Regions from separate parts of the Homo sapiens genome. Here regions 1, 2 and 3 are each linked to region 4. Evidence: fine-mapped expression QTL. A gene starts in region 4. Each other region holds a variant in brackets. All regions are shown on one strand. Distances are between the middles of the regions. Region 1 holds the start of TRG-CCC4-1 (tRNA-Gly (CCC) 4-1). Region 2 overlaps ATP13A2 (ATPase cation transporting 13A2). Region 3 holds the start of LINC01772 (long intergenic non-protein coding RNA 1772). Region 4 holds the start of CROCC (ciliary rootlet coiled-coil, rootletin).

The links. PIP is the estimated chance that this variant, and not a neighbour inherited with it, causes the effect.
Region 1: its variant is fine-mapped to the expression of CROCC in whole blood (INTERVAL, PIP 0.98).
Region 2: its variant is fine-mapped to the expression of CROCC in whole blood (INTERVAL, PIP 0.92).
Region 3: its variant is fine-mapped to the expression of CROCC in whole blood (TOPMed, PIP 0.95).

What each region holds. Positions count from the first base shown.
Region 1 is chr1:16,675,516-16,683,752 of GRCh38, reverse strand. It overlaps TRG-CCC4-1 (tRNA-Gly (CCC) 4-1), which reads left to right and starts at 5,412; the gene lies at 5,412-5,482. It also overlaps the pseudogene EIF1AXP1. RefSeq lists a silencer at 6,674-6,823 and an enhancer at 6,854-6,903. The variant C/T (reference allele first, on the strand shown) is at 4,542.
Region 2 is chr1:16,983,104-16,991,340 of GRCh38, reverse strand. It overlaps ATP13A2 (ATPase cation transporting 13A2), which reads left to right. Exons shown (of 29, transcript NM_022089.4): 21 at 1,054-1,214; 22 at 1,338-1,454; 23 at 1,571-1,650; 24 at 2,867-3,019; 25 at 3,107-3,203; 26 at 4,072-4,295; 27 at 4,385-4,536; 28 at 4,709-4,878; 29 at 4,983-5,383. The coding sequence ends at 5,120. Among named protein-coding and RNA genes, the nearest start is that of MFAP2, 6.6 kb to the right of the region's middle. The variant AGGAGCCCTGGGG/G (reference allele first, on the strand shown) is at 4,580.
Region 3 is chr1:16,456,924-16,465,160 of GRCh38, reverse strand. It overlaps NECAP2 (NECAP endocytosis associated 2), which reads right to left. Exons shown (of 8, transcript NM_018090.5): 8 at 5,083-6,319. The coding sequence ends at 6,271. It overlaps LINC01772 (long intergenic non-protein coding RNA 1772), which reads right to left and starts at 4,213. Exons shown (of 2, transcript NR_147210.1): 1 at 1,874-4,213. The variant G/A (reference allele first, on the strand shown) is at 3,857.
Region 4 is chr1:16,919,563-16,926,803 of GRCh38, reverse strand. It overlaps CROCC (ciliary rootlet coiled-coil, rootletin), which reads right to left and starts at 4,873. Exons shown (of 37, transcript NM_014675.5): 1 at 4,726-4,873; 2 at 4,006-4,141; 3 at 2,325-2,479. The coding sequence starts at 4,785. RefSeq lists enhancers at 2,349-2,959, 3,143-3,914, 3,915-4,686, 4,687-5,458, 5,459-6,231 and 1 more.

The DNA.
Region 1 (8,237 bases), 240 kb after region 4:
ATAACCCCAGTTCATGTATTTACTGGTGATTGTTCTTGCTGAGGTAGTAACAGCCCAATCTTGGGCTGTTAAATCCTAGGAAATCTCGAATCATAGTGATTAAAATAGTTGGGGTAAAGTTGTAGCTTATATGCAATACTACTTGGAGGAATTCTTTTACTAATTTGTATTTAATGTGGAAATTGTATAGTTTCATTGATTTAATCATAAATAATGGAAATGGTCTTCAAGAAGTTTTATTTCATTTTTTTGCTTATACACTCTGATTCCTATAATACAGTGCTATAAGCTATGCACAGAAAATAAAATGTTTGAAATCCAAGAATAATGGTTCTTACTGCTAAGAGGGAGTAATAGTTATTACTAATGATTTTGATTGGGTTGCATTTTTGTTGCAATGTTTATTCCACTTGCAGTTAGAATATGAATATGTTTTATCACTAATGTGGCTAAATAACCAAACATTTGTGTAAAAAAAAAAAAAAAAGCCAAGATTTCATTGTTTGTTGAATATTTCTTAAGCATCTAGCCCCTAAAGAGACTGCTTCTTACCAAGCCTGTAAACTATGCATGATGGAAATTCTTGTATTTTATTTAGGAATGGCTGTTGGTTTACTTACCACATCTGTGGAATCATGGCTATAAATGTTTGCTTACAAACTAAAAAAAAAAAAAAAGAAAACCAGAAGAGAAGAAAAACACAGTCTCTCTCATTCTTGAGGAAGTGTAGTGTGGCAGTTAAGAGAAAAGATCCTGGGGCCAGACTTGTTGCTTCAAATCCCAATTTGTAAACTTTCCTATGCCCCAGTTTCTTCATATGTTAAAATAGTAATAAAGGAACTACCTACCCCATCAGATACTAATGTGAATTAAATGAGTAAATTCTTATAAAATGCTTTAGAACAGTGTCTGGCATCAGGTAAAATGCTGTGGATTAGTTCTCATTCTGACTACCACTGCCCCAATACACTGATGTTAACATGCTGATATATTTATTCGAAGTCTTATTTTCCTATGCCTATTTTTCACACAGTGGTAACCCAATAAACTTTTAAATTATAGTAAACTTTAGAGAGCATTAAACTTGCAGCATGCAGAAATAGCTTGTCCTGCGTTCTTGTGGCTATCCTAACTAGATAAGGCCATGTTAATGGCTTGAGAAACATCAGTGTGTGTGGAATGAACACAGGACGTTGGAGGATTTGAATTCAGGCTCTGCCATGTGCTAGTTTGAGTGATCTAGAACAAGCTGGTTTACCACCTCTCTTTAAGTTTTGGTTTCCCCAGTCAGTAAAATAGAAAGTGGTGAAACCTAACTTGTGGGTATAAGGAGGATAAGAAATACTGTATTTGAATGCCTAGTACAGTGTCAGGGTTGAATAAAGTACGACTTCACCTTATTCCCTAGTAATTATTGTCCTCATGACCAAACCTGCCTCCTCTCAAAGGCAGTGGCCACAACAGCACATCCAACTTTTATTTAGGAAGACATCTTTGTCTTTTTTCAGAGCATGAGGAGCACAGCAGCCGCAAGGAAATGGTCCTGGTGGAGGGGCTGTGCTCTGAGCAGGGGCGCCGGGGCTGAACGCTGGCTAGTTCCTCTGAGAGGAAGCCCTTGGAGAATGAACTAGGGAGGCAGGAAGAGTTCTGGGTATATGGAAAGTCAGAAAACATCTGGGTCCTATGAAAGGACATCAAAGATCTGAAGGCCCAGCTGCAGAATGCCAACAAGGTCATTCAAAACCTCAAGAACCGGGTCCAGTCCCTCTTGGTTACAAGTGATTATTCATCTAGTCTGGAAAGACCCTGGAAGCTGAGAGCTCCTGACACCCTGGAGGGGTCTTCACCTCATAGTGTCACTGATGAGGATGAGTTGTGGCTGTCTGATGGCACTGGGGCTTTCTACTCTCCAGGACTTCAGGCCAAAAAGGACCTGAAGAGTCTCCTCCAGAGAGTATCCCAGCTGGAGGCCCAGCTCCCAAAAAATTTATCTAGGGACATATAATTAACATATATATAACAGTTGAAGAACAGTGGCATGGTAAATTTTTGTTTTGTTTTGTTTTGATACAGAGTCTCACTCTGTCACCCAGGCTGGAGTGCAGTGGTGCCATCTCGGCTCACTGCAACCTCTACCTCCCAGGTTCAAGCAATTCTCCTCCCTCAGCCTCCCAAGTAGCTGGGATTACAGGCATGTGCCACCATGCCCAGCTAATTTTTGTGTGTGTTTTTAGTAGAGGAGGGGTTTCACCATATTGGCCAGGCTTGTCACGAACTCTTGACCTATGATCTGCCTGCCTCAGCCTCCCAAAGTGCTGGGATTACAGGCATGAGCCACCACGCCCGGCCCATACTAAAATTTTTAGTGCGATACTTTATCAGGGTAGAATTTGCTGTTAAATGCCTCCTATGGCTTATGTGCCAGAATTCAGTTTGGGGGAGTTCCTTAGAGATGTTCTCATAGAAATCTCTACAGAAGCCCCCATAACTTATCATCCACCCTTTCCTCTTCTGTCCTGCATTAGGAAATATGATTCCCTGATTCAGGATCAGGCCCGGGAACTGTCTTACCTACGGCAAAAAATACGAGAAGGGAGAGGTGTTTGTTATCTTCTCACCCAGCATGCAAAAGATACAGTAAAATCTTTTGAGGATCTCCTAAGGAGCAATGACATTGACTACTACCTGGGACAGAGCTTCCGGGAGCAACTGGCCCGGGGAAGCCAGCTGACAGAGAGGCTCACCAGCACACTCAGCACCAGTAAGTTGGCCACAGGGCTTTGGATACTCTCAGTCACCCCACAGTTCCAGCCCCTGGTGGCCACCACATCTCCACTGCAACTTTTTAACGTAGGGTCCTGTTTCTATTTCATTTCCTGGGGCTAATATAGGATCAAGACTGCTCAATGGGGAGCATGGAGAGGAACACACAGGGCTGGAGATGCCATGGTTACAACTCTAGAAACTTCACCACTCATGGAATGTGACCTGTGGGGCAGGGGAGACATCTCTCTGGTGCTAAGAGGGAGTAGGGGACATGACATGGAAGGGCCTTGTTATAGGAGGAAGAGCCGTGAGCTAAGAATTGCAAGACATCGAGGCGCTGAGGCCAAAGGGTCCGTGAGGAAACAGGCGCAGCTCACGCCCCTCGGCCTACGGGAGGGAGGGCAAGGAGGGTTCTACGGTTCCTGGGAGGACGAGAAGAGCCAAGAGCCCCGACGGCCGGCGCCGGGGAAAAGGCCCCGAGGCGGGGTCCGCATCCCTGGAAGGGCGGCGTCCACCCTCCTGAGAGGCACGGGGCGCCCAGGGCTCGGAGGCTCAAAGCCCGCCGGCTCCTGCAGCTTCTGGGAGCCGAAGAGTGTCAGCCGGGAGGATCCCGCACACGGCGCTTAGTTCTGGAACTGCATACCCAGGGGAGGATGCGGGAGCCCGAAGCCCGGGTATGTGTCCCCGAAGCCCGGGTGTGGGTCCCCATGGTTTTCGTGTTGGGGGTGGGCGCGGAACGCTAAGCCTGGGCCTATTGGGAGCCATAGTCTTCTTGATGGCTGGTGCTTATTGGGCTTTTTTCAGTCGAATTTCGAAATGCAGTTGAATTTCTTACTTTGGAAACGATAATAGAAATGGCTGATCTAAGATTTTCATGATGATATTTTGCCTTTTTTGGTGCATATGCAGTTTCTGTGGTGTAGTGGTTATCATGTTCGCCTCACACGAGAAAAGTCCCTGATTCGAGACTGGGTGGGAACGTCGTGGTTTGTTTTTTTTTTTGTTTGTTTGTTTGTTTTTTTGGTCCCTAAATTTTGTGAGTTTAATCGAGGTTGGGAAACAAACAGAAAAGTATTTGAACCTGTGGCTACATTTTAGACCTCCTCAATCTAGACAGATTGTTGACCAGGTACAATTTCCACTGGTCTGCCAGCAAGAGGCCTGCTTAATATTAGCTTTGGTTCCAGAAATTCCTTAAGATTCTCTTTATTCTCTTCTGTCGCCTGAATTTTCACAGGCTGACACTGAAAGTGGATGACATCTTAGCGCATTTCCTAAGGGTCCCGCTTGGTTTGGCTTTACTCTGGTAAGTTGCAGATCTGGCTGATTTGCAAGACAACAAAAACAAAATATTTTTTAAAAAGGTTCTAAATCTGCATCTGGAAGTCATAGAGTCCATATTCCTAAATCACATGAATTATGTATATACATTTGCATGCATACCCCTTCCTCAAATAATCCTCAGAAAACCGGTTAAGTTTTAGCATCTGTGACTCAGATGCATATGAGGCCTTGGTAGATTTAGAAGTTGAGAGTAGAAAGTACAGGTTTGTATTTTAGAAGGAGATTTGGGAATAAATGTAGCTTTGGTTGATATAGATCATATGTTAAGGTTTGTTGGCCAGAGCTGGTGTGTGTCTTGGGTGTTGGGCAAAGAACAGAGAACAGCCAAAGCTCTGCGAGGTCAATGTGAAGGATGATTTCCTTGGTGGGCTCAAGTTTATGACTCAGCCTGGACCTAGCTTGGCTTCTCAGCTTGAGAAGAAGCATGATTC[C/T]ATGTCACAGCTCCTGTCTTTGAAAAAGTCATAATGACTCCCAGACCCAACATGTGGAGAAAACTCTGGATTTGTCTCTTCAGTTGAATGTCTCCATTGAAAATTGAGGAAAGAAATCTCTCTAATATTTGAACTTCATCAAAAGACTAATATGTTAATATTTGACCGTCAATATTTCCTTAAACTAGTCTACTGCTTACATAGCTAACACATCAAAGCATATTAACTTAGGAAATGGGATTCTCCCAAACAATGAAACATTGACGGCAAGCGTTCTTCATCTTTTCACATCACATTTCCTTCAAATGCTTTATACATCTTCAAGCAGACAAATAATAGTATTATAATGATTACGAGACCGATCATTACTCTTTTGCCAAAAAAAACCAACGACAAAAGACTAACTTAGTGGACCAACCTTTGTTTCTTCATTATCTCTACCGTGGTTCTGTCCTTTTATTTCGTCTTTCTTCTAATTCTGCTTCTGCTTCTTATTTCCTCCCTGGATTTGAACTTTACTTACCTAAACTACCAGTTAGGTTACCTTCTCAGAACCTCTAAGGCAGCAGTTTGAGGTTGATGATGGAAGATTTAGGATTAGAAAAAAGAAACATGAATGAATTTCTGATGTTTTATTATAGGGGTTTGTAATGCAGGTAGAAAGACCTTTTTCAGAGTTAAGAGTTTGATCCGACAAATGAGCTATTTTGATATTTATAACGTTGTCTAATAAAAGTTTCCTATAAAAACACATTTGGTTTGGATGTCTTTGTTAGCTTTTAGTCGACACTTGAAAAAACCGCTTAGAACAGTTTCTAAATCTTTGTGGTTACTCTTTTCTGTTATCCTCCAGGGGGTAGTTCCAGAGAGGCGTTGGTGGTTTAGTGGTAGAATTCTCGCCTCCCATGCGGGAGACCCGGGTTCAATTCCCGGCCACTGCACGTGGTTGTTTTTCACTTCGCTATGGCTCTTTACTTGTCTTTTACGCTGAAAATTATACTGCATAACCCAAGAGTGCATTTAGGGGCTTGGCCACCACAAGGTAAAGTGACAACAACACTCACCAAAGTAGCGGCAGGAGACTAACCCAGGACCCCATGCAGTTGTTGGACTCAAACAGCTTAGCAAGCTGGCAAGCATGAAGTGTCTCTGGTGAGTCACTGCAGTTTTGATACTGGTACCTGTTACTTTCATTTATTCACTGGAAGGATCCCTGCAAACCCAAAGAACCATCAGTTTCCTGATTCGCGTGCTGGACCTTGGGCTTACCGTTGAGCCACTATGGAGAGGATCAAGAAATGACACTCTTGGAAGGAGAGAAGCTGCGGGCAGGACAGTCACCTCAGAGGTCCAAGAGTTGTCATCGGCCCAAAGAAAGGGGAGGTGTGTGGGCAAGAATCTGCGTGGAGATGAGGGGAGCGGCGGAGACTGGTCCTTGCGCAGAGGTGGCCAGTGAACCCTCAGGGCTGTACCCCAGACACCGTGAATCGAATTTGCTCACATCATCAGCGACCGCAGCCCCCGCGTGTTTTGTGGGCCCATCGGTGTTCCGCGAGGGATTCCGTGTGTCTGGCAATGTGTGTCAACAGGTGTTGGCCTGAAATTTGGCCGGGCACGTTGGCACACGCCTGTAATCCCAGCATTTTGTGAGGCCAAGGCGGATGGATCGCTTGAGGTCAAGAGTTCAAGACCAGCCTGGCTAACATGGAAAAATCCCATCTCTACTAAAAATACAAAAATTAGCCGAATGTGGTGGCATGCACCTGCTATTCTTGGGACGCTATACTTGGGACGCTGAGGCAGGAGAATCGCTTGAACCCAGGAGGCAAAGGTTGCAGTGAGCCAAGATCGCGCTACTGCACTCCACCTGGGCGACAGAGCGAGACTCCGTCAAAAAAAAAAAAAAAAAAAAAAGCAGCGAAAGAAGGCAGAGATGTCAATGGGACAAAGAGACCTCCCAGGAGGCTTGTTGTAGAGGCAGTGGCTGGATCCTGAGAGAAGAGATTTTTTTTAAATTATGTAGCAGAATGGGGAGAGAAAGGGAGAAGCACATGAAAGACAGAAAAGCACAAAAATCTGCGGACGTCCTAGAATAAACCAGATAAAATAGTGTGAGTGTTTTTACATTAAAAAAATAGAAGAAGTGCAATGGTTGTCAGCAGACTTTGTGGTCGTGTAGTGGTTAATACTTGTAGTTGTGGTTGCCACAACCTCTGTTCTAATCTGAGTCACAGTAGTGTTTTCTATCCTGCAACTGTGGCTAATAGACCTGTCGTTTGCTTTGCCTTTAATCCTAGCAGCCTCCAGAGAGCACAGGAAACCTCTGGCCCTGAAGGGCGCCAGCTTCTGGAGTTTAGCCCACAGCGCAGAAACTAGGGGGCGGCCTGGCCTATAGGAAAACTTGGACATGCTCTTTGTCTCACAATTGAGCAGGAAACATTCCCGTAGGTGAAGATGCCGCCTCTCAAGGGCCCTCTGTCTGTAGCTTCCAGTGATGAAATAATGCGGTTATAGTCTTTTTCGGTAGAGAAAACGGCTGTATCAGTGGAATTTTTTAAAAACACAAAATGAGAACGAGTTTTTCATGAGTTGACAATAAAATCTAAACTAGTTGTCATGGTTTGCACCGGCTTGCCTCCATTCCCCATCCGCTAATTTTTATGAGAACAGTAAATTATTACTATTATTATTATTATTGAGATGTAGTCTCGTTCTGTCACCCAGGCTGGAGTGCCATGGCTCAATCTCAGTTCACTGCAACCTGTGTCTCCCAGGTGCAAGCAATGAGAACAGGGATCCAGTTTCAGCTTTCAACATATGGCTAGCCAGTTTTCCCAGCACCATTTATTAAATAAGGAATCCTTTCCCCATTTCTTGTTTTTGTCAGGTTTGTCAAAGATCAGATAGTTGTAGATGTGTGGCATTATTTCTGAGGGCTCTGTTCTCCTCCATTGGTCTATATCTCTGTTTTGGTACCAGTACCATGCTGTTTTGGTTACTGTAGCCTTGTAGTATCATTTGAAGTCAGGTAGCGTGATGCCTCCAGCTTTGTTCTTTTGGCTTAGGATTGACATGGCGATGCGGGCTCTCTTTTGGTTCCATATGAACTTTAAAGTAGTTTTTTCCAATTCTGTGAAGAAAGTCATTGGTAGCTTGATGGGGATGGCAGGGAATCTATAAATTACCTTGGGCAGTATGACCATTTTCACGATAGTGATTCTTCCTACCCATGAGCGTGGAATGTTCTTCCATTTGTTTGTATCCTCTTTTATTTTGTTGAGCAGTGTTTTGTAGTTCTCCTTGAAGAGGTCCTTCACATCCCTTGTAAGTTGGATTCCTAGGTATTTTATTCTCTTTGAAGCAATTGTGAATGGGAGTTCACTAATGATTTGGCTCTCTGTTTGTCTGTTATTGGTGTATAAGAATGCTTGTGATTTTTGCACAAGAATTTTGTATCCTGAGGAGTCATTTTTAAAATAAATATATTGCAAATGACTTTTCCCAGTCAGTGAAAAGTCTGACTGAAAGCTGTCAACTGAAAAATCACACAATTTATAAATTTAGAAGGGAGATTTTATTTTTTATAAAGGGTTACAGCCTGCAAGGTGGCCATTCTGACAGACAGGGAGGCATACCCTCTTGCTGCTGAAACCTGAAAAGTACGTTTCCAGGGAGGGGAGGGGGGAACAGGGATTT
Region 2 (8,237 bases), 64 kb before region 4:
GGCCAAAGGAGAAGGATGTCTTGAACCCTGGAGTTCAAGACCAACCTGGGCAACATGGCAAAACTCCGTCTCTACAAAGAATACGAAAATGGCCGGGCACAGTGTCTCACGCCTGTAATCCCAGCACTTTGGGAGGCCGACGCGGGCGGATCACTTGAGGTCAGGAGTTCGAGACCAACCTGGCCAACATAGTGAAACCCCGTCTCTACTAAAAATACAAAAAATTAGCCAGGTATGGTGGTGGATGCCTGTAATCCCAGCTACTCGGGAGGCTGAGGCAGGAGAATCACTTCAACCCGGGAGGTGGAGGTTGCAGTGAGCTGAGATCACGCCATTTCACTCCAGCCTGGGCAACAGAGAGAGACCCAGTCTCAAAAAAAAAAAGATTCTAGCTAGGGTGAGACAGCAGGAGCTAAGAGGTCTGTGTCCTTGTCCTCCCCGCCCCTGCACACACACATATGTGCACACACATTCATGGGCACTTGGCAGCAGAGTCACACAGCAGTAAGGAGTATATGTAGCCTGGGCACATGGCTCGTGCCTGTAATCCCAGCACTCCGGGAGGCCGAGGCAGGGGGATCACCTGAGGCCAGGAGTTCAAGACCAGACTGGCCAACATGGTGAAACCCCATCTCTACTAAAAATGCAAAAAAAATTAGCCTGGTGTGGTCGCACCCTCCTGTAATCCCAGCTACTCAAGAGGCTGAGGCAGGAGAATTGCTTGAGCCCAGGAGGAAGGAGGTTGCAGTGAGCCGAGATCAAGCCACTGCACTCCAGCCTGGGCCACAGAGAGAGACTCTTGTCTTAAAAAAAGAAAAAAAAGGAGTATATGTGGAGCTCCAGCCCACGGCTCCAGGTTCTCCTAAGACCCTTCAATGCCTGGATCTACAGATGAGAAAACTGAGGCAAAGGGATGTTGGTAACCTGCCTCAGCTCACTTGGCTGGTGGTGGCAGACGGATTTCATCCAGCCTGTTTTCCCATCTGTAAGGATCAGGATGAGGATGGCCTCCCCGGATAGCCTCAGACCCTCACCTTGCCCCATAACCCCCAGGGGACAACCTGCAGACAGCGGTGACTGTGGCCCGGGGCTGTGGCATGGTGGCCCCCCAGGAGCATCTGATCATCGTCCACGCCACCCACCCTGAGCGGGGTCAGCCTGCCTCTCTCGAGTTCCTGCCGATGGAGTCCCCCACAGCCGTGAATGGCGTTAAGGTGAGGCTAACCCAGAGTTCCAGCTGTACCTCACCCAGTGACCCCACCCCTGTGTCACCTGACCCAGGCCCCAACTCTCCAGGGTGGGCAGGGGGAGCTAAGCTGAGCTTCCTGGGCCCCCAGGATCCTGACCAGGCTGCAAGCTACACCGTGGAGCCAGACCCCCGATCCAGGCACCTGGCCCTCAGCGGGCCCACCTTTGGTATCATTGTGAAGCACTTCCCCAAGCTGCTGCCCAAGGTAGGGCCGCCCCCAGCTCCCTGGCCGCCCTGCGCCTCCCCTGCTCTGTCTCCTTCCTCACGGCTCGCTCTCCCTGGTGGGTGCCTCAGCCCTCCCCCATCTCCCTGTGCTCCCAGGTCCTGGTCCAGGGCACTGTCTTTGCCCGCATGGCCCCTGAGCAGAAGACAGAGCTGGTGTGCGAGCTACAGAAGCTTCAGTGAGTGCTCGGCAGAGGGTGTGGGCAAGGGCCTGCGGAGACTGAGCTTGTCCGTTCGTCTGTTCATCTGTCCTTCCCCAGGGCCCTGTCTCCCTCCTCAGGCACCAGAGAGCTGTCACCCCTCCTCACCAAAAGCAGGCAGGCTCTCCCAGGTCTTTCATGCTAAAAATAATAATTGTAGGCTGGGTGCGGTGGCTCATTCCTGTAATCCCACCTCTTTGAGTGGCCGAGGTGGGAGGATCACTTGAGCCCAGGAGTTTGAGGCCAGCCTGGGCAACAAAGTGAGACCCCATCTCTTATTAAAAATTTAAAAATTAGCCAGGTGTGGTGACACACCGGTCATCCCAGCTACTCAAGAGGCTGAGGCAGGAGGGTTGCTTGAGCCTGGGAGGCTGCGGCTGCAGTGAGCCATGATCACACCACTGCACTTCAGCCTGGGCAACAGAGCGAGACTCCGTCTCAAAAAATAGTAATAGGCCAGGCGCGGTGGCTCATGCCAGTAATCCCAGCGCTTTGGGAGGCTGAGGCAGGCAGATCACCTGAGGTCAGGAGTTCAAGACCAGCCTGGCCAACATGGTGAAACCCTGTCTCTACTAAAAATACAAAAATTAGTTGGGCATGGTGGCGCACACCAGTAATCCCAGCTACTCAAGAGGCTGAGGGCACTTGGGCAGCAGAGGAGGTTGTAGTGAGCAGAGATCACGCCACTGCACTCTAGCCTGGGCAACAGAGGGAGACTCTGTCTCAAAAAATAATAGGCCGGGCACGGTGGCTCATGCCTGTAATCCCAGCACTTTGGGAGGCCGAGGCGGGTGGATCACCTGAGATCAGGAGTTTAAGACCAGCCTGGCCAACATGGTGAAACCCCATCTCTACTAAAAATACAAAAAATTAGCCAGGCGTGGTGGCGGGCGTCTGTAATCCCAGCTACTTGGGAGGCTGAAGCAGGAGAATCACTTGAGCCCAGGAGGCAGAGGTTGCAGTGAGCTGAGATCATGCCATTACACTCCAGCCTGGGCAACAAGAGTGAAACTCCGTCTCAAAAAATAATAATAATAATGATAATAATAATAATAATTGCATCTATTCACTGAGCGCCTCCTGTACACCAGGCACCATGTGGCATTAGGGGCCCAGCTGTCATCATATTCTGCCAGCCCACCCATGGGGTGGTGGGGTAATTCCCCAGGCCACACCTGTCCACACCTCTCTTCAGGTACTGCGTGGGCATGTGCGGAGACGGCGCCAATGACTGTGGGGCCCTGAAGGCGGCTGATGTCGGCATCTCGCTGTCCCAGGCAGAAGCCTCAGTGGTCTCACCCTTCACCTCGAGCATGGCCAGTATTGAGTGCGTGCCCATGGTCATCAGGTAAGGCAGGCAGGGACCGGTGGGTGAGGGCTCAGCAGGGCTGGTCAGCCAACCTGGGTCCCCTAATGTCCGTGCCCTGCCACCCAGGGAGGGGCGCTGTTCCCTTGACACTTCGTTCAGCGTCTTCAAGTACATGGCTCTGTACAGCCTGACCCAGTTCATCTCCGTCCTGATCCTCTACACGGTGAGTATCTGCAGAGCTCCGTACCCAGAGCCGTCCCAGGACTAGGGAGGGGACACAGCCCTGTGCCTTGGAGCTGGCAGGTCCCAGAATAGATGACGTGGGCCCAGATCCTGACCCTGCCACTCTCCGGCTGTGTGGTTGGAGAGGTGGCAAGGCTTGGGGGAGATGAGAAAAACACCAGGCACGGAGCCTGGTACCCACTAGGTCCTCACAAATGGCAGCAGCTGTCATGGGCTAACATCTTGACCGCAACTCTGGGAGCTCCCCAATCTGCAGGGAAGACTGAACGGAGGCAGGGCCAAAACCCTCGCCCCCGCCCCATCCCCACAGGTCTGCCCATTTCCCCAGATGCACTTGCTTTGCCCCATACCTTGGCTGTACCTCCCACACCCTACTTGGAGGAGCTCTCCCCTCCCCTGCTCTGGGCATGGCCTGCTCACCCCCAGCGAATGAGGTGACACTGCAGGGCGGCGCACATCTTATACTTGGGTCTGTCCCTGTGTCTGCCTGAAAGCGAGGAGCTCCCTGAGGGCAGGAACTGTGCATGCCCTGGTAGCTATAGGGACTCCGCAAGGCAGAGCCGAAGCCTCCCCTTCGGGCCGGGAGTTTGTTACAGGGAGGGAAACCTCCCCTCAGATTTAGGCCCCCAAGGTCAGCACAGGTGCCCTTTCCATCAGACCAGGGGTTTGTCTCACATCAAGAGCGGCACCTCCTCCGCTGGGCTGGCAGGAGAGTACGGCCCCCATTAGACTGGGGGATGCCTTACCCATCAGATTCCTTCGGGGCAGGGGTGGGGCCTCTGCTATCAGACTAGGGGCTGCCAGGGCCAGGTCTTAGTTTCCCCTCTGTCCTCCCTTCCCTGTGGCAGATCAACACCAACCTGGGTGACCTGCAGTTCCTGGCCATCGACCTGGTCATCACCACCACAGTGGCAGTGCTCATGAGCCGCACGGGGCCAGCGCTGGTCCTGGGACGGGTGCGGCCACCGGGGGCGCTGCTCAGCGTGCCCGTGCTCAGCAGCCTGCTGCTGCAGATGGTCCTGGTGACCGGCGTGCAGCTAGGGGGCTACTTCCTGACCCTGGCCCAGCCATGGTGAGTAGGGAGCTGACTGACCACCCCCATCCCGCCCCTTCCCTGTCCACCCCACGTTCGTTCCCTGACCCCCATCCCTGTACCCCCAGGTTCGTGCCTCTGAACAGGACAGTGGCCGCACCAGACAACCTGCCCAACTACGAGAACACCGTGGTCTTCTCTCTGTCCAGCTTCCAGTACCTCATCCTGGCTGCAGCCGTGTCCAAGGGGGCGCCCTTCCGCCGGCCGCTCTACACCAATGGTGCCACTGCGGGCGCGGGCGGGAGATGCTGGCGGAGGGAGGG[AGGAGCCCTGGGG/G]TGCTGGGGAGGCAGATGGGAGAGAGGTGCCGGCCGAGTGGAAGACTGGCGTGCACACGTGTGTCTGTGGGTGCCGGGGGGGCGTGGCTCCTGCCTGAGAGACTCTCCTGCTCCCAGTGCCCTTCCTGGTGGCCCTGGCGCTCCTGAGCTCCGTCCTGGTGGGCCTTGTCCTGGTCCCCGGCCTCCTGCAGGGGCCGCTGGCGCTGAGGAACATCACTGACACCGGCTTCAAGCTGCTGCTGCTGGGTCTGGTCACCCTCAACTTCGTGGGGGCCTTCATGCTGGAGGTGGGGCCCGCCCTGGGTCTCAGCAGCGGGAGAGAAGGGAGGTGGGGGTGCATTGACCCCAGCTCAGCCCCGGCTGCCCCTGACACCCTCCCTGCCCTTTGCAGAGCGTGCTAGACCAGTGCCTCCCCGCCTGCCTGCGCCGCCTCCGGCCCAAGCGGGCCTCCAAGAAGCGCTTCAAGCAGCTGGAACGAGAGCTGGCCGAGCAGCCCTGGCCGCCGCTGCCCGCCGGCCCCCTGAGGTAGTGCAGGCCCACGGGCACCCCAGACACTGGAACTCCCTGCCTCTGAGCCACCAACTGGACCCCTCTCCAGCAACACCACCGCCACCACCTCCCACATCCCTGAGGTTGGCGACTGTCTACACTCCTCCCCCGAGACCACCCCCACCCTGGGGAAGCGTTGACTACTGTCCCCTACCTTGGACCATCCCGCGTAGGGGTGGCAGCCCCCAGCTCCCCTCAGTGCTGCTGTCAGTGTAGCAAATAAAGTCATGATATTTTCCTGGCTCTGCTGTGCCTGTCTTGTACCTGGCACCATAGACCCTCCCACCTGCCCAGGAGGAAATGCACATACCCCCGGGTGCCCAGCTGGCAGCCCCTGCACGTGTCTGCCCCTGGAACCCCCTGGGGGGCTGGTTTTTCAGGCTGGTTTTTCAGCCTGACAACCCCCTGGAACCCCCTGGTTTTTCAGACTCCATTGGCCAACTCCCCTCTCTGGGCCTGTGTTCCCTCATCTCACAGTAATAATGTTTCCTCTGTGTCCAGCATGTGCCTGGATATTCCGTTTAGCTTTTTTTTTTTTTTTTTTTTTTCTTGAGATGGAGTCTTGCTCTGTCACCCAGGCTGGAGTACAGTGGGGTGATCTCTGCTCACTGCAACCTCCGCTTCCCAGGTTCAAGCGATTCTCCTGCCTCAGCCTCCCGAGTAGCTGGGATTACAGGCATGTGCCACCACGCCCAGCTAAATTTTGTATTTTTAGTAGAGACAGGGTTTCGTCATGTTGGCCAGGCTGGTCTCGAACTCCTGACCTCAGGTGATCCGCCCACCTTGGCCTCCCAAAGTGCTGGGATTACAGGCGTGAGCCACTGCGCTTGGCCCCATTTAGCATTTTACACACATTGTCATGTCATCCTTCCAACAACTGTGGTACTATTCCCATTTTACAGATGAAGAAACCAAGGCTTAGAGGTTACACAAGTAGTCAGAGTGGGGCCGGATAGCTTTGACTCCAGCTTCGATGTTCCTAACCCTCCTACCCTCCTTTGGAGGACAAGGAGATGTAGGCTTGCCTGGGAGGCATTTGCTAGGGGGCAGCTCCCTCTCTCCCACCTTACCCCCTCCCCGTCCCACCCCAGCATCCTGGGACATGTTTGTGGGCAGTTCCTTCCTCAGATGAAATCCAGGCTCGGAGCCCACATCTCCCAGCCAGAACCACGCGCATCATCCCTCAGGGAAGGGTGGGTGCCTCTGAGCTCATCTCACCAGCGGGCCCCTGGCCAAGCCCCTCTGCTCTAGAGAGGCAGCTTGGCCGTCTGGCTCATCTGGGCAGGGGAGAACAGGAAAGACCGGCTGTTTCCTGCCTTCCAAAAGCCCTGGCCAACCTCATTCCTGGAACCCCTGGTGCTATCCCCAGGCCTGCCAGAGTAGGGGCTGAGAAAACGTTGAATCATGCTGGGGAGAAGGGATGTGGGTGTGAAGATGAAAGTCCTGCCAGGAGGCACATCACAGTGGACCTCTGCTCCTGGCACTGTGTTGCCAGCCAGCGACGGTTCAGGGTGGTAGATGCTGTTTAAGAGGAAGCCACAGAGAGGCCTGGGTTCAAATCCCTCCTCTACCCTTAGCTGATTATTCATGAATCTGTTGGACAGGTGTGTGCCAGGCACCAGGACTAACTCAACAAACTGAATAAAACGGGACAAAAACATGGTCTAACCCTGCGAGCAGTTCACCATCCAGCGTGAAAGCCTGGCAGGGAAGGAGCACATCTCCAAAGACGTAGTGGGAGCACAGCAACCACAGCCCCATCCCCTCCCCTGCCCAAAGAAACAGCCAGGGGAATGGGTAGAAGCAGCAGAGAGGACATGGGAGCCAGGACACGAATTGTCAGCTTTAGCCCCTCAGTTTCCCAGTTTTTCTTTTCTTTTCTTTTTTTTTTTTCAGACAGGGTCTTGCTCTGTTGCCCAGGCTGGAGTGCAGTGGTGCAATCGTGGCTCACTGCAGCCTCTACCTCCCCAGGCTCAGGTGATCCTCCTACCTCAACCTCCTGAGTAGCTGGGACTATAGGCCAGCACCACCACACCCAGCTAATTTTTGTATTTTTTGTAGAGATGGGGTTTTGCCATGCTGTCCAGGCTGGTCTCAAACCCCTGGGCTCAAGCGGTCCACCCGCCTTGGTCTCCTAAACTGCTGAGATTACAGGTGTGAGCCACTGCACCCAACCTCCCTCCTTTTTTCAAGGGTAGGGGACAGCATTTCTGCTGGGTGAGTTCCTCTCTTTTGCCAGTGGGATTGCTCCTGGCAGCAGTGGGGTCTAAGGGCAGGCAGAGAGGGCTGGGCTGGCCTGGCCTGAGGGCCCACCTCTCTCCAGGTGACAAAAGTCTCTGCTGCCCTGCAATAGACACTGGGGGGCGGGGCATGGGAATGAAGGAGGCACAGGGCATATTTACTCCCTCCCTAAGACTCAGAGTCTAAGGGAGGTGGGGGAATGACTGGCGATGAAGAGATCAGATGGCAAGGGTCTAAATCAGGGGCCATCCTCATCTCCTCCCAGCCCGCAGCCCCTACAACTCTCACTCCCGCCTCAGGCCTAGGCTCCTGGGCAGGGCTGAAGGCTGCCCCTCACGCAGAGGATCTGCACCCCCAGCCAGCTTCTCCGGGAAGAGTTTAGTGTACAGTTCACTCATTCATTCCACCAATGTTTGCTGAACTGCTGCTCTGAGCCGGGCTCTGAACTTAATGAGCAAAACTGAAGATGAGCAAAAACAGCCTTGGTCCTGGCCTTCACGGGGCAAGATGACAGTCTCATCGGGAAGAGGGACAGGGCTCAGATGGTCACAGACATAGGCCAACAAGACAACTGCAAGCAGTAAAGCTAGAAAGCACAAAAAAAGGAAAAAGGGAAGGCCCCTCTGAGGAAGGGAGGGTTTGATCTGTGACCCCATGGAGGAGACCTCAGCCAGTGCTCGGGAGGAAGAAACGCCTCAGTGTGGGAGGGAGAGGGGTTTGGGAGAAAACCCCCAAAGGCCAGTGGCTGGAGGAGGAAGAGGAGGCAGAGCCAGGCTGCCATAAAGGGCCGGGGCCCTGGAAGCCACAGGGAAGTTGAGCCTCTAACCTGAGTGAAAGGCGATCAGTAGAAGGGGCA
Region 3 (8,237 bases), 460 kb after region 4:
AGCAACTGCAAAGATGTGAACTATGCAGAGGCCTACGTGGAAAGAAAATGAGAGTGACCTCTGTCCAACAGCCACGAGGAACAGAATCATGCCCAAAACCACGTGAGCGAGCTTGGAAGCAAACGCTTTCCCTGCTGGGCCTTAAGATGACAGTGCGGCCTCGACTGACACCTTGACTGCAGCCTGTGAGAGGCCTGTGACCCAGCTGAGCTGCACCAGATTCCTGACCACAGAAGCGGAGATGACAAATGCAGGTCATTTTGGGCGGGTGTGGTGGCTCATGCCTGTAATCCCAGCACTTTGGGAGGCTGAGGTAGGCGGATCACCTGAGGTCAGGAGTTTGAGACCAGCCTGGCCAACAGGATGAAACCTTGTCTCTACTAAAAATACAAAAATTAGCCAGGCATGGTGGCGGAAGCCTGTAATCCCAGCTACTTGGGAGGCTGAGGCAGGAGAATCGCTTAAACCTGGGAGGTGGAGGTTGCAGTGAGCTAAGATTGCACCATTGCACTCTAGCCTGGGCAACAAGAGTGAAAATCTGTCTCAAAAAAAAATAAAAATACAAATAAATAAAGTACCTACTTACAGGCTTTGTATGGTTGGCTAAAAAAAAAAAAAAAAAAAAAAGAAAAAAAAAAAAAAACAGTATCTGTCTACATTCAAGCTGCGGTGAGGAAAAATTGGTCTTTTCCCTACTCCAGTCCACTCAGTCCACAGAGCATGGTATCTTTCTCACTCCCAGCTCATAGAAATCGACAACTATTAAGCACCTACTGTGTGCCCATGATGCATTTCAGTAGCTTTCAATCACCAATGGAATAAAGCCCCACCCTTCGCCTGTCATTCCTACTTGCCACGGCTTTCGTAAGCCATGTGGAGGGAATGGGACTTTTCATATATTAAGGGGGTCTTATGTGCCAGGCTTTGCAGGGAGCACTGCTCCAAAGAAGTAGCCACCCTGACTAAAAGCATGGATGCTGGAGCCAGACTGCCTGGGTTCAAATCCCAGCTCTGCCACTTACCAACCATGTGACTTTGAACAAATTATATAATTTCTCTGCATTTCTCATTTTCGAAACAGGGATGAGTACTGCTATAAACATTTGTGTCCACCCCCACCTCCAAATTCATACTGAAACCTAACCCCTAGTATGATGGTATTTGGAGGTGAGTTCTTTGGAAGGTAATTATGTCATAAGCGTAGAGCCCTCACAAACAGTATTGCCCTTATAAGGAAGCCCCAGCCAGGTGTGGTGGCTCACGCCTATAATCCCAGCACTTTGGGAGGCTGAGGCAGGTGGATCATGAGGTCAGGAGTTTGAGACCAGCCTGGCCAATAAGGCAAAACACCATCTTGACTAAAAATACAAAAATTAGCTGGGCGTGGTGGCATGTGCCTGTAGTCCCAGCTACTTGGGAGGCTAAGGCAGGAGAATTGCTTGAACCCAACAGGCAGAGGTTATAGTGAGCCAAGATCACACTCCAGCCTGGGCAATAAGAGCAAAACTATCTTTAAAAAAAAAAAAGGCAGTGCCATTCCCATGTGGTGGCTCATGCCTTTAAGCCCAGCACTTTGGGCGGCCAAAGCAGGAGGATCACTTGAGGCCAGGAGTTTGAGATCAGCCTGGTCAATATAGCAAGACTCCATCTCTTAAAAAAAAAAAAAAAAAAAAAAAAAAGTCCCCAGAGTACTCTATTGCCCCTTCTACCATGTGAGGTTACAGCAAAAAGACGGCCTCACCAGACACCGAATCTGCTGGTGCCTTGGACTTCCCAGCCTCCAGAACTGTGAGCAAAAAATTTCTTTTGTTTATAAACTACCCAGGCTATGTTATTCTGTCATAGTCCCAAATAGACTAAAACAAGTACTTACTGGCCAGGTGCGGTGGCTCACACTTGTAATCCCAGCATTTTAGGAGGCCAAGGCAGGCTGATCACTTGAGGTCAGGAATTTGAGACCAGCCTGGCCAACATGATGAAACCCCGTCTCTACTAAAAATCAAAAAAATTAGCCGGAAGTACTGGCACACGTCTGTAATCACAACTACTCGGAGGCTGAGGCAGAAGAACTGCTTGAACGCAGGAGGCAGAGGTTGCAGTGAGCTGAGATCATGCCACTGCATTCCAGCCTGGGCCACAGAGCGAGACTGTCTCAAAACACAAAAAAAACAAGTCCTTACCTCATGGGGTTGTAGAGATGATGCAATGAGTTTTATAAGTGCATAGAATAGTGCCTAGCAGAGAGTTAAGCATTACTTTAGCAATAAACAATAAGCATTACTTAAAGGCAACAGGAAGGCCCAAAGGAGCATCATAAGGGACCTCCCAAGGCCCTACAGCTATTAAGTCTATCCAGATTCTCTCTTTTCCACACTGATTCCCACCTCAAACACACTTTGCTAACCTTTGTGTTGGTTATCTATTGCTGCATAACCTTACCAGAAACTTAGCGACTTAACACAATACATTTACCATCTGTTCCTATGGGACAGTCTGGGCACAGCTTAGCTGGTCCTCTGCAAGGCTGCAGTCAGTGTTGGTCAGGCCTGGGGTCTCACCTGAAGGCTTACCTGGGAGTGATCAGCCTCCAAGCTTGTGTGGTTGCTGGCAGCATTTGCTTTCTTGCAGACTGCTGGACTGAGCTTCAGTTTCTTGTTGGCTGTCAGAGGCTACCTCAGTTCCTAGCCACCTGACCCTCTCCCAAGGGCAGCTCACACAACATGACAGCTTCCTTCTTCAAAGCCAGCAAGAGAATTTCTCAGCAAGGCAGATGTTGCAGTCTTACATAAGGCAACCATGAAAATAACATCTTGTCACCTTTGTGGCACTCTACTGGTTAGCAGTCACAGGTCTAGGCCATCTCAAGGGGCAGGGAGTACATAAGGCTGTGAACAGCAGGTGGGGATCACAGTGACCACCTGGGAGTCTATCTGCCACACCTCCCAGTGCATCCAAATTCTGTTGTGCAGAGGGCAAGTGAGGTCTAGCATACCCCCCAAGAAAGCAGCCATCTTCTACCATCCACCCACCAGTTTGTAAACTCCAGTCAGGGGTGTAATTGAAGTGATGCCTGGTTTGGGATTGAGTTTTCCTGGAGATTCTGGTCCTGTAATGAGTTTTTTCCAGCTGGGATTCCAGTTAGTGATGGACAGCATCAAGCTGTCCCTTGCTCCTGGCCCCAGACCCCACAAGGTGCTTTTCAGGCTAGATTCCTGAGGGCTGTGTCATCAGCTGTGCCACCTCCTCCTCCCTACCATGATGAACTGTTCTGGGTACTTACCTGACTCCAGAGAAAGGTCATTAAGGTCAAACAATGCAATGTGCATCTGCTAGTGCCTCATCCGAGTGACGCTCAGGTGAAGGAACAGCCTGTGGCCACACGTCTAACCAGGGGATAGCCTAGATCCTAAGGCCAGGTCTGTCTCCACAATCCAAGTGCTGATCTTCAATGGTACATACTTTTTTTTTTTTTCCTTTTGAGACAGTCTTGCTCTGTTGCCCAGGCTAGAGTACAGTGGCATGATCTCAGCTCACTGCAACCTCCACTTCCTGGAGGCAATTCTCATGCCTCAGCTTCTCAAGTAGCTGGGATTACAGGCGTGCGCCACCATGCCTGGCTAATTGTTGTATTTTTAGTAGACGGGGTTTCACCATGTTCGCCAGGCTGGTCTCGAACTCCTAACCTCAAGTAAGCCACCCACTTCGGCCTCCCAAAGTGCTGGGATTGTGGGCATGAGCCACCACACCCAGCCATGGTACACACTTCTAATAAAGCTTCCTCTACATCTAAGCTTTCTGATTTCCACCCTCCAAGTACTTAAAACTGACTCGATGTGAAGTAATGCTATGTGAAATC[G/A]ACATAAAAAAGTTACTGCTCCCGAAGATCCTTTAATGCAATCTCCTTACCCTTAATTCAATGGGCAAGAGAATCTTCAATTTTCATTTTCTTTCTCCTCTCTACAGTTTCTTAATCAGAGTGGCTATTTCCATAACAATAAAAACTGCTTCTTACAGAATCCTCAGGCAAAAGAAGTGTTGTGGCTTTTTTTCATTTTTAATTCTTTTAGAGAATTCTCTAGGGTCTCACTGCTGCCTAGACTGGAGTGCGAGGCCGTGATCATAGCTCACTGCAGCCTCAAACTCCTGGGCTCAAGCAATTCTCCCACCTCAGCCTCGCAAGTAGTTAGGATTCCAAGCATGCACCACCACCACACTAATTTTTTTTTTTTTTTTTTTTTTTAAGAAATGGGGTCTAACAGCCGGGTGCCGTGGCTCACGCCTATAATCCCAGCACTTTGGGAGGCCAAGGCGGGCAGATAACTTGAGGTCAGGAGTTTGAGACCAGCCTGGCCAGCATGGTGAAACCCCATCTCTACTGAAAAAATACAAAAATTAGCTCGGTGTGGTAGGTGCCTGTAATCTCAGCTACTGGAAAGGTTGAGGTAGGAGAATCACTTTAACCTGGGAGGCGGAGGTTGTAGTGACCAAGATTGCTCCACTGCACTCCAGCCAGGGCAACAGACTGAGACTGTGTCTCAAAAAAAAGGAAAGAAATGCATCTTACTATGTTGCCCAGGCTGGTCCCAAACTCCCAGCCTCAAATGATCCTCCCGTCTTGGCCTCTCAAAGTGCTGGGATTACAGGCGTGAGCCACTGCACCCGGCCTCTTAATTTTACTTTTGACCTCTGGGTATCTGCACCCCTTTACTACTTAGGGAGATGCTCTGCCGGTAGGTTTGGTGGAAGACGGAAAGCAAGGGGCCAGGCTCTCTAGAACGGCCTGTATCATGAGACGCCACAAGAGAATTAAGCCCCACACAAAGTGATTCAAGCAACTACTTTCACATCAACCAAAGGATGATGAAAAGACTGTACTATCCTAGAGAACACAGGAGAGAAGGTACCGATTGCCTTAGACAACAAGGTTGCATTTCCTCACTTTGGCCAGCCTCACACCCCAGCCCTGAACTTTCAATCTGGACACTTGGTCAGTGGTGAGAGAAGTGGCCGTGAGTCTAGCTGTGGCACCCTGAAGAGTTTAACAGCCACGCGGCCAGAAACACATTCATCTTTCACATACAATGACAGAAGTAAAAATATTTATTTTATCTTAAAAATCTGGTCCCGCAAAAAGGCCAACACTTTTTTCAGTTCACGGTCTTGACCTTTCAAAGAAGAAATCTTTCAACTGAGAGGTGAGTTAATAAAAGGAATGTCAGAGGTGCTTTCAGATTTCTTATAAACCAGTAAACCAAGCAACCCTGGACTTCTAGTTTACTGAGCTCCTTCTTCTAGCCATTCACAGTTCCTGAAGGAGAAAAGAAGTTGTTTGCAGATAAGGCACTTTAGAAACCACCAAAGAGAAAACCCAAGTCTGCCAGGAGCTGCACTGTGAACATGTGAGCCGAGAGGGCCACCAGCAGACAGAGTGCCAACTCCCACAGCTCCATGACAACAGCATCCACCTTCCTGCCCCAACACTGTTCCGTCTGGCTTCCAGCACCCGCCTTGGCTCTGTGTTGCCTACCTGGCCTAGAATACATGGAAACCAGACAACTGGCCAGAGATAAACACTGCTGCCTGAAGCTCAGGGCAGCTGCCCACAGTGAGGAATCCCTTCAGAGGCCCCAGCTGGGGCACGCCGAGGGAGCAGTTCCTTTTGCAAAGATGAGTTAGTGCGGATCAGCACATTAGCAAAGCAAAATATTTAAACATTTTTAAAAGCTGCTAATCCTTCCAATTTCCCTCCTGATTGTAGCTCAAGCTGCAGCCTCTAAACCTGCTAAAAATCAGGAAGAAACCCCTCCTCTGGAGGGCAGATGGACTGAAGTGGCTACAGCCAGTGTGGGTACGGAAAGCCTCCCGCTGAACTGTGATCATGTGACACCTGCAGACCCTGGGAAGGGCTGATCTGAATCCTGGCAGCAAACTCAACCTCTTCTTTTGCTTGGGGGGCTTGTGTTTAATACAGGTCATTGCGATGGAAGAAGTCTCAGAGTCTCTCTCACATCAAGAGGACAGATGGGGACAGGGATCCTGGAGCTTTTCTTCTCCTGTGTTCTGGTTGCATACTTGAATCCCAGGAAACAGTGTGACACGGTGCCAATTTACTGCCAAACATGCCCGGTTTGTCAACAGAGCCAGACAAGGAGGAGAGGAGAGATTCATGCCCCAAACACAGGCCAGCTGAGGAGGGCTTCGTCCTCCTTCCTTTGGCCCAGATGAGGGAGCGCCTTCCCAGAAGTCACATGAGGAAAAACCGTGCTCAGGTCAGAACTGGACCCAGCCTGTGCCTGGCTGGGTCTGGCTGGAAGTTGATCTGTAAAGAGAAGACAGGGAAGGGTGGGGGAGTTCAGATCTTTGAAAATACAAAGCAGATAAAAGTTGGTTTCTCTCTGGACAGAAAAAGCTCTAAGAAGCCAGTTCCTAAATGTTCTAGAGCAGCAGTCAGCAAACTCTGGCACAGAGACCAAATCTGGCCCTCGATGGTTTTTTTTTTTTAAATAGTTAATGTAACTGTATTTACCAAAGTTTTTTGTTTGTGGTTTTGTTTTTTGTTTTGTTTTTTTTTTGAGACAGGGTCTCACTGTCGCCCAGGCTGGAATGCAGTGGCACACTCAAGGCCAACTATAGCCTCAACCTCTTGAGCTCAAGCGATCCTCCTACCTCAGCCTCCCTAGTAGCTGGAACTACATGACCGGTTAATTTTTGTATTTCTTTTAGTAGACACAGGGTTTTGCCATGTTGCCCAGGCTGGTCTCGAACTCCTGGCCTCAAGTGATCTGCCTGCTTTGGCCTCCCAAAGTGCTGGGATTACAGGCGTGAGCCAACATGCCTGGCCGAAGAGTCTTAACCCCTTTCCCATGTAGAAAAAATATAGCTCACTGCCAGCCCTCATTTAATTTTACATAAACATGCTCTTTGAGGCTGAAGCAAATCTGACTGATTTTCAACGTGAAAATAAAATATAAAAACTGTTCTTGGAGTTATTTCAGAATCATCTGAATAATCAGAACTATTTTGGAAAAATCAGACTCCTCAAATGAATCTTAGGCTAAAAACTGTTCAAGAACGATGTTAACATCACATGTAAGAATGCTGCGTTTTCTAGGATTTGACTTTTTCAGTAATCAATAATTACTATATTTTGGGCCAGGCATGGTAGTTCACGCCTGTAATCCCAGCACTCTGGGAGGCTGAGGTAGGCGGACTGCTGGATTCCAGGAGTTCCAGACCAGCCTGGGCAACATAGCAAAACCCCGCCTCTACTAAAAATACAAAAAATTAGCCGGGTGTGGTGGCAATTGCCTGTAGTCCCAGCTACTCAGGAGGCTAAGGGATAATCACCTGAGCCTGGAAGGTCAAGGATGCAGTGAGCCGACATCACGCCACTGCACTCCAGCCTAGGCAACCAGAGTGAAACCTTGTCTCAAAAAAAAAAAAAAAAAAAAAACAGAATTACTATATTTTGTAAATGGAAATACCACTATTAAAAACAGAATGCTATAAATAGAATGTCTTTTGTTCCAAAGCTGATATACTAGAGCGATGCAAAAATAATATAAAAGCAATACATTTTGTGGCAAAGTTATCTCAGGGTCAACGCTGCAGTCTGAAGTGCCACTGGCAAGTTTTCTCAGGGCAAACAGGAAAAGGGTTACAGTCCTCATTTCACGCCTCTGTTTTTTTTGTTTGTTTATTTGTTTTTTGAGATGGAGTCTTGCTCTTGTGACCCAGGCTGGACTAGAGTGGCATGATGTCAGCTGACTGCAATCTCCCGGGTTCAAGCAATTCTCGTGCCTCAGCCTCCCAAGTAGCTGGGATTACAGGCACCACCCCACCACGCCCAACTAATTTTTGTGTATTTAGTAGAGATGGGGTTTGACCATGTTGGCCAGGCTGGTCTTGAACTCCTGACCTCAGGTGATCCGCCTGCCTGGGAATCCCAAAGTGCTGGGATTACAGGCATGAGCCACCGCGCCCAGCCCATGCCTCTATTTTTGTAAATAAAATTTTACTGGCACACAGCCATGCTGATTTATTTACATATTGTCTGTGGCTGCTTTTGTGCAACAAGAGCAGAACTGAGTAGCTAGAACGAAGACCACACGGCCTGAATAGTCTAAACTATTTGCTATCTAGTCCTTTACAGAAAATGTGGCTGGGCACACTGGCTCGTGCCTATAATCCCAGCACTCTGGGAGGCCGAGGCAGGCAGATCGCTTGAGCCCAGGAGT
Region 4 (7,241 bases):
TTTACTCTTTCCAGGTTGCTATGGACACGAGGGAGCCCAGGGGGTCTGTCCTCTGGAGCCAAGGGAGGCGTGACCACTCCCTCCTTTCCATTCCCAGCTGCGCCTACATCTGCTTCTCAGGGACAGCAAGAAGGGGGGACCCCCATGGGGGCCCTGAGGTCCTCTCTCTCGGCTGGGAGGTGGCCTCTGGGAGTGCCTCAGTTTCCCTGCAGGACATGCAGTTAACAGGACACAGACCTGACCCTCCCTCCGCTCCCCATGCCAGGGGTGCTGCAGGGTTGGAAAGATCAGAACAATCTCGCTGACTGCCCACCAACCCAGCCCAACATGCCAGTGAGGGCCACAGGGGCAGGCACTGCCACCTGTGGCCATGGGGACAAGGGGGTGGCAGGGAAAGAGAATGTTGCCCAACTGCAGAGCCCTGGACCAAGGGTCTCATCCCAGGACCACCACTGACCTTGGGCCTATCATGCCCCTCTCCCGGACTTACTTTCCCTATCTGTGATGAGGTGATCTCTAGGCTCTGAAGTTCTCTGGGGACCCACCCTCCAGGAAAGGCCTTTGAGGTCATTCCTGTTCCACCCCTGCCTCCAGGTGGGGCCTCATTCAAACCATGGTGGATAGAGGACAACTGAAGCAGCGGGCGCCCTCTGCGTGCCATTTGGGCCCCCACTAACCACAGGAGGGAGCTTTCTAGACTAACCCAGACCCCCTGTGCTGCAGTCCCAGCCCCAGCAGCTGTGTCCCAGCAGAGGAGGAACCTGCTACCTCCCACCTCTTCCCTTCCCTGCCAACCTGGGGGCAGGGCTAGCTTCAGAAGGTGGCATTTAAGAGGCGGCCCTGGGGGTGTGGCACTGTGCCATGCATGGACCAAAAGAAAGGGGTGCCTGGCTCAGGGCCCCATCACCACCCACAATTCATGACTGGGGCCAGCGTGCCCTACACACCCGCTGCAGACCCTGGGGAAACGAGCTCTCCACTGTCCTCATGCCAGGGGCCACTGCGGGCCGCCTACTCTGCTCCTCTACAAGTCCCAACTAGTCGTGGGTTTGTCCAGCCAGGCAAATCCCAGGACACGGGCACACCCCACAGTCATACACAGGAACACACACCCTCCTGCCAATGCGGGCTCCAGCCTGGACAAGTCCAGCTCAGGGGTCCCATGCCAACCCTAGCTCTGCCACTACCACACAGGGGACCCTGGGCCAGCCCCTGCCTCTCTGGGTCCCTTCCAACTTTGTGGGGGCCAGCTGTGCCCTGAAATCCCTAGCCCAGTGTCTCTTCCCATACACAGGAAATGAAACTTCAGAACTTTGTTTCTAGACTGGGTTAGTTTAGAAACCAAACAGAGCCCTGGGCTGGGAGTTGGAAGACCTGGTGTCTAACTTTAACTGGCTGTGTGCCCCCAGCATGGTGCTTCCCCTCCCTGAGCCTCTGTTTTCTCCTCTGTTACATGGGCATCATAATGGTCCCGACCTTGGTGTATTAAATGTGAAACACTCAGCACGCGCCTGGCACATAGTAGGCACTCAATAAACAGTAGCTACTGTTAATACGTTATTGCCACCTGCATGCCTCTCATCTGCACACATACACTCTGTCCCAGCTGCGAGTGTCCCTTACCAATCTTCAGCCACCACCAACTTCCCAGGGCCACCTCCCGGCCACCCGGAGGCCCAAAGCAGACAGTGCATCAAGAGCATCCCGCACCCCTCGCACCGGCTCACACCCAGCTCCCGCCCCACACCCTGGGACCCCCACAAGCCTGCAGCACGGGTGATGTGAATCCTGCCTGGACATGAAGACAGGCCTGCTTCTCCTTCCTTCCCTGCCTGGAACTCATTCCAATAGGCAGTGGCGGCAGGTCTTGTGGCTGCCCCAGATGGGCTGCAGAACACCGCGGGTGCCCACACCAGCCTCGAGCCAGCATCCAGCCACCGCCTCAACCCCAAGGCCCGTGGCAATGGGAGATGCCCAGAAACTCAAGGGGCAGGAATCTTTAGGGATCTCATTCTCCGTGTCCCACACCCCTAACAGGCCTGGGACAGATGGGAACAAAATACCCCTGGTGCCAGGCACTTTATTCTATTATCTCCTTGATTCCTACAATTCCACGTCCCATTACAATCCCCACTACAGAAAACAGGCTTAAAGAGCATAGTGATTTGCTCAACGCCACTCAAGGTGGCAGAGCCTCAATCCAAGCCCAGGCCAACCTGACTCCAGGGCCCATCTTTTGCCCCGTGTGTGGGCCTGGTCTAGATGCCTCCCTGCCCTTGAACGAGGGGAACCCTGGCCTAGTCCACCACCTGGGCGGCACCCACCCTCTCGCTGACCGCATTGTACTTAATGGCGAGCTCATCGCGCTCGGCACGGCTCTGGGCCAGCAGGTCCTCCACGCGGGACAGCTCCTGCTGCAGCAGCTGGTTCTCCTCCTGCAGCGACAGCAGCGATGCCATCTCTGTGGCCGGCAGCAGGACTGGCAAGGGACAGTGGGCACATGGTTGGCTTCTGGGTCCAGTGGGACATCCTCCCCCCAACAGGGAGGGCAAGAAAACCATCCAGGCCCCTGGGAGGAGTCCAGATGGGAATGGCTGCAGCACCAGGCCTGCAAACAGAGCTGAGAACAGGGAGGAAGGCAAGGAGGGGATACAAAGCTGGACGTAAAGTGAACACAACTCCAGCTAAAGTGTGGCCCAGCAGGTTTGGGAGGTGCAGGAGAGACACTCAGTCTAGGAGCCAGGAGACCCCTGAGTTCTTGCTCCCTCCTTTTCCAATTAGTCTTCTTCTCCGGGGCCTCAGATTTACTTATCTGTAATATGGGTGGGGCGGGCACGGACTCACGCCTGTAATCCCAGCACTTTGGGAGTCGAGATAGGAGGATCACCTGAGGTCAGGAGTTTGAGACTAGCCTGGCCAACACGGCGAAGCCCTGTCTCTACTAAAAATACAAAAATTAGCTGGGCATGGTGGTGTATGCCTGTAGTCCCAGCTACTTGGGAGGCTGAGACAGCAGAATCACTTGAACCGGGGAGGTGGAGGTTGCAGTGAGCTGAGATTGCGCCACTGCACTCCAGCCTGGGCAACACAGCGAGACTCTGTCTCAAAAAAAAAAAAAAAAAAAAAAAAGGTAGAATAGTAGTAACCAGATCCTCCCAGAAAAGCATCAAAGCCTCGCTCAAGAGAAGGGCTTCATGGAACTTTAAAGGCTAGGGCTCAGGAGAGCATAGCATAGGTCAGGTTGTGAGGAGAAGGAGAAAGAGAGAAGAGGGAAAGAAAGGCCAGCGGGAGAAGCGGGGTTGTCCACCTCCTGTGGGTTCCCCTTCTACCCTGGGAGAACTGGACATACACCCCAGGTGTCAGGGTGAGGGCCCTCTGAGTCTCTCCCTGTCTGGGGCTCCAGGGCGCCAACATCCCTGGCGCTCCCAAGGAGGGGGCCCGTCTGTAGCTTGGGAGTTGAACACAGACAATGGTTAGAGCACCAAAACGCCACACGCCAGCACACCAGCTGCAACTGAGTGTGCCTTTCCCAGATCCTCAAGCCACATAACTACACCGTGTGCGCCACCCACTGAGAGGAGCAGGGACCATCCGCCTTCCTGCCCACGTGGGAAACGGATGGACGGCGCCATCCACTCAGACTTCCGCAAAACCCTGGTCTGAGCTGAGCTGCCCTCTTCCTGTATCTTGGGTTCAGCCAGCTCACACCTTCCCCGGGTGGGAATACGGGATTTGGGGTTCACATCTCTGCAGCAGGCTACAGGCAAGCACGCAGGAGATGCTCGGCCCTTCCTTCTAGTTGCACCACATGCGGAATAAGTCTGGACAAATTACATCCCTGAGCCTCTGTTTCCTCATCTGTAAAATGGGTTCTTCTGTCATAAAGCTGTGCCTGCCCCACAGTGAGTTACAGTCATGATCATCATGGTGACTGCTCAGGAAAGGGACATGAGAAGAGGTAAAATGTGGGTGGTGTTTGTGGAGGGGAGCGGATGGGGGTGGCACCTGGGCTCTCAGGCTGGGAGAGGTTGCGGGTGACAATCTCCCTGATAAGGGCAGGCAGGCTGGTGATCTGAGCGTCCTGGGCCAGGTCCCGCGCGCCCAAGCCTTTCTCCTGGCACAGGACGCTGCTCTCCAGTGTCTGTGGGAAAAGCGAGAGGGTCTTCAGGGGACATGGGACCCGGGGCTCCCTGGCCTCGTGGGGAGAGCCACAGAATCCTACTGCCCAAGATACAGGTCCCCAGGAGCCCCCTCAAGATGGAGTGAAGCCTGGGAGTTAGAATCCAAAAAATCCCCATGCAAAGAGCCTCTTGTGTGCTCACTGCCCCAGGAAGAAGGCCCAGGGCCAGAGATGAGAACCAAACCCTACGGGTAACTCCCAAACCCCACTGGAGGCAGTCCAGTGTTGGGGGCCCCAATCCGGTTCCGACCCTAGATGGATGAGGATCTGGCTATGCCAGAGGTCCCCCAAGCCCTAAAATCTGGCAGTAGAGACCCCCTTCTCCCAACCCAGGGCACTGGGATGAGGGAGCCACAGCAGGTGCACCCTGTGTGTACCTCTGCCCCCCATCTTGCCAGGAACTGCAAGCGGGGGGCCCCTGTATACCCCACCACCACCACACCTCTCCCACCCCTTGATCCCCAAGACGCACACACCTCTCACCACTCCTGTTAAGTCCACGCTGCCCCGCCCCAGACAGGGTGGGCACAGCCCCCAGGACCCACCTGGATAACCGTCTCTAGTGTCAGCTCCACCTCCTGTGCCCCCGCCAGCCCCAAGCTCATGGGGGGGAGGCTGTGGGCATGCCTCCAGCCCCCTTCTCCAGGACCCCAAGACTAGCTCAGTCAGCACGCGCCACAGCCAGGATGCTGTGCTGAGCACCAGGCAGATTAAGCTTAAATCCGGCGGCGCCCCCATGTGACCACCGCGGTGGGAGGAGCAGGATGTGGGCTGAGGAGGGAGGGGATGGGAAAGGACAGGAGAGGAGGGAAGCAGAGGCAGGGAGCCAAAGGAAGAGGAAGGATGAAGAGAGGGGAGGAGAAGGGAGAGAAAAGGAGGGAGGAGAGAGAAGAGGGAATGGGAGGAGGAAACAGGGGAGACACCTGGAGGTCAGGACCTCACACACTCTTCACCCTGCGCAGGTTGCTGGGTCCTAGAGCCCTCCAAGCCCAGGGGGTGGGGTCAGTAGCCATGCGGCGGGAAAGGCCAGAGTCCTAAGTATTTGTGACCATCTTTCTGGCCCAGAACGGGAGTCACATGGTTAGCTAAGAATGAGAGGATTTACAGCATGCTGGGAGTATGTTTTCCCACAACAGGTGTAGGGCAAAGAATGCAGGCTGTGAGATCACCCAGGCCAGGCTTGGCACTTAGTTGGGCATGAGCGGTCCAGCCTGGACTGATGAGCATTTATGCAACACCTGCGGCATTCCTAGGTCTGACCTAGACACAGTGGTAGAGCCTCGAACTACAAATGCCCTAGCCTTGCCCTTCAGGCACTTATTGGGAAGCTTCTGGCCCCTTCACACCCACCCCAGCCCCCACTAGCTGGGTGCACCAGGGACACTGACTTTGCCTCTCTGAGACTCAGTGTCCTCTTACGTAAGATGTGATAATATTGGTACTCATCTCTCGGAGCCGTCCGGGGATGAAACAGTATCGTGTGTGCATACCCAGCACATGACATGGTGCTGGGGGGTCACGTGGCCAACACTCAAGAAATACTCATTTCATTCATTTGAAAATCCAGAAGGTACAGTCCCAGCCAGGCGCAGGCACTCATGCCTGTAATCTCGGCATTTTGGGAGGACAAAGCGGGTGGATCACCTGAGGTCAGGAGTTCAAGATCAGCCTGACCAATATGGTGAAACCCCGTCTCTACCAAAAATACAAAAATTAGCCGGGTGTGGTGGTGCACACCTGTAATCCCAGCTACTTGGGAGGCTGAGGCAGGAGAATCGATTGAACTCAGGAGGCAGAGGTTGCAGTGAGCCAAGATCGCGCCATTGCACTCCAGCCTGGGCAACAAGAGTGGAACTTTGTCTCAAAAAAAAAAAAAAAAAAGGCACAGTCCCTATATCCCAGGGCCCTGAGACCCAGAGGTCACCCACCACCTCCCATTGTTCTTTCCCTGGGGCAAGGAGGCTATGTGCTCTAGTGCTTAGGCGCACAGCTCTGGAGTCAGTATCAGGTCTGAGGTTGCATGTGAGACTCAGCTCTGTCACTTGCAACTATGGTGTTCAAGACAGTAAGACCTTGAACAGGTTACCTCCCTGAGCCTCAGTTTTCTCATCTCTAAAAGGAGACTAAACCAGGCCAGGTGCAGTGGCTCAAGCCTCTAATTCCAGCACTTTGGGAGGCTGAGGCGGGCAGATCACTTGAGGTCAGGAGTTTGAGACCAGCCTGGCCAACATAGTGAAACCCCATCTCTACTAAAAATACAAGAATTGGCCTGTAATCCCAGCACTTTGGGATGCTGAGGCAGGCGGATCAGGAGGTCAAGAGATTAAGACCATCCTGGCCTACATGGTGAAACCCCGTCTCTATTAAAAATACAAAAATTAGCTAGGCATGGTGGTGCACACCTGTAGTCCCAGCTACCTGGGAGGCTGAGTCAGGAGAATCGCTTGAACCTGGGAGGCAGAGGTTGCAGTGAGGCGAGATCATGCCACTGCACTCCAGCCTGGCGACACAGTAAGACTCCGTCTCAAAAATATAAATAAATAAATAAATAAATATAAAAAAAATTAGCTGGGGCGTGGTGGCATGTGCATATAATCCTAGCTACTCAGGAGGCTGAGGCAGGGGAATCACTTGAACCCAGGAGGAGGAGGTTGCAGTGAGCCGAGATTGTGCCACAGCACTCCAGCCTGGGTGACAGGGCAAGAGTCTGTCTCAAAAAAATAAAATAAAATAAAATGAGACTAGACCGAGTGTGGTGATTCAGGTCTATAATCCCAGCACTTTGGGAGGCCAAAATGGGAGAATCGCTTGAGCCCAGGAGTTTGAGACCAGCCTGGGCAACATAGCGAGACTCTGTCCTACCAAAAACAACAAAAAAATGCGACTGATAGTACCTACCACACCTGGCAGGTGGTGAGCTATTAGCCAATGGGGGCCACTGTTCCTATTGTCATTAGCATCACGTGTCTGGGCTCCTGCCCTTAGAGTTGTAAGCCCTAAAAAAGGACAGGAATTGCTCACTCGAGGAGCTCGGCTTTTAAGACACAAGTCTCCTGAAGTT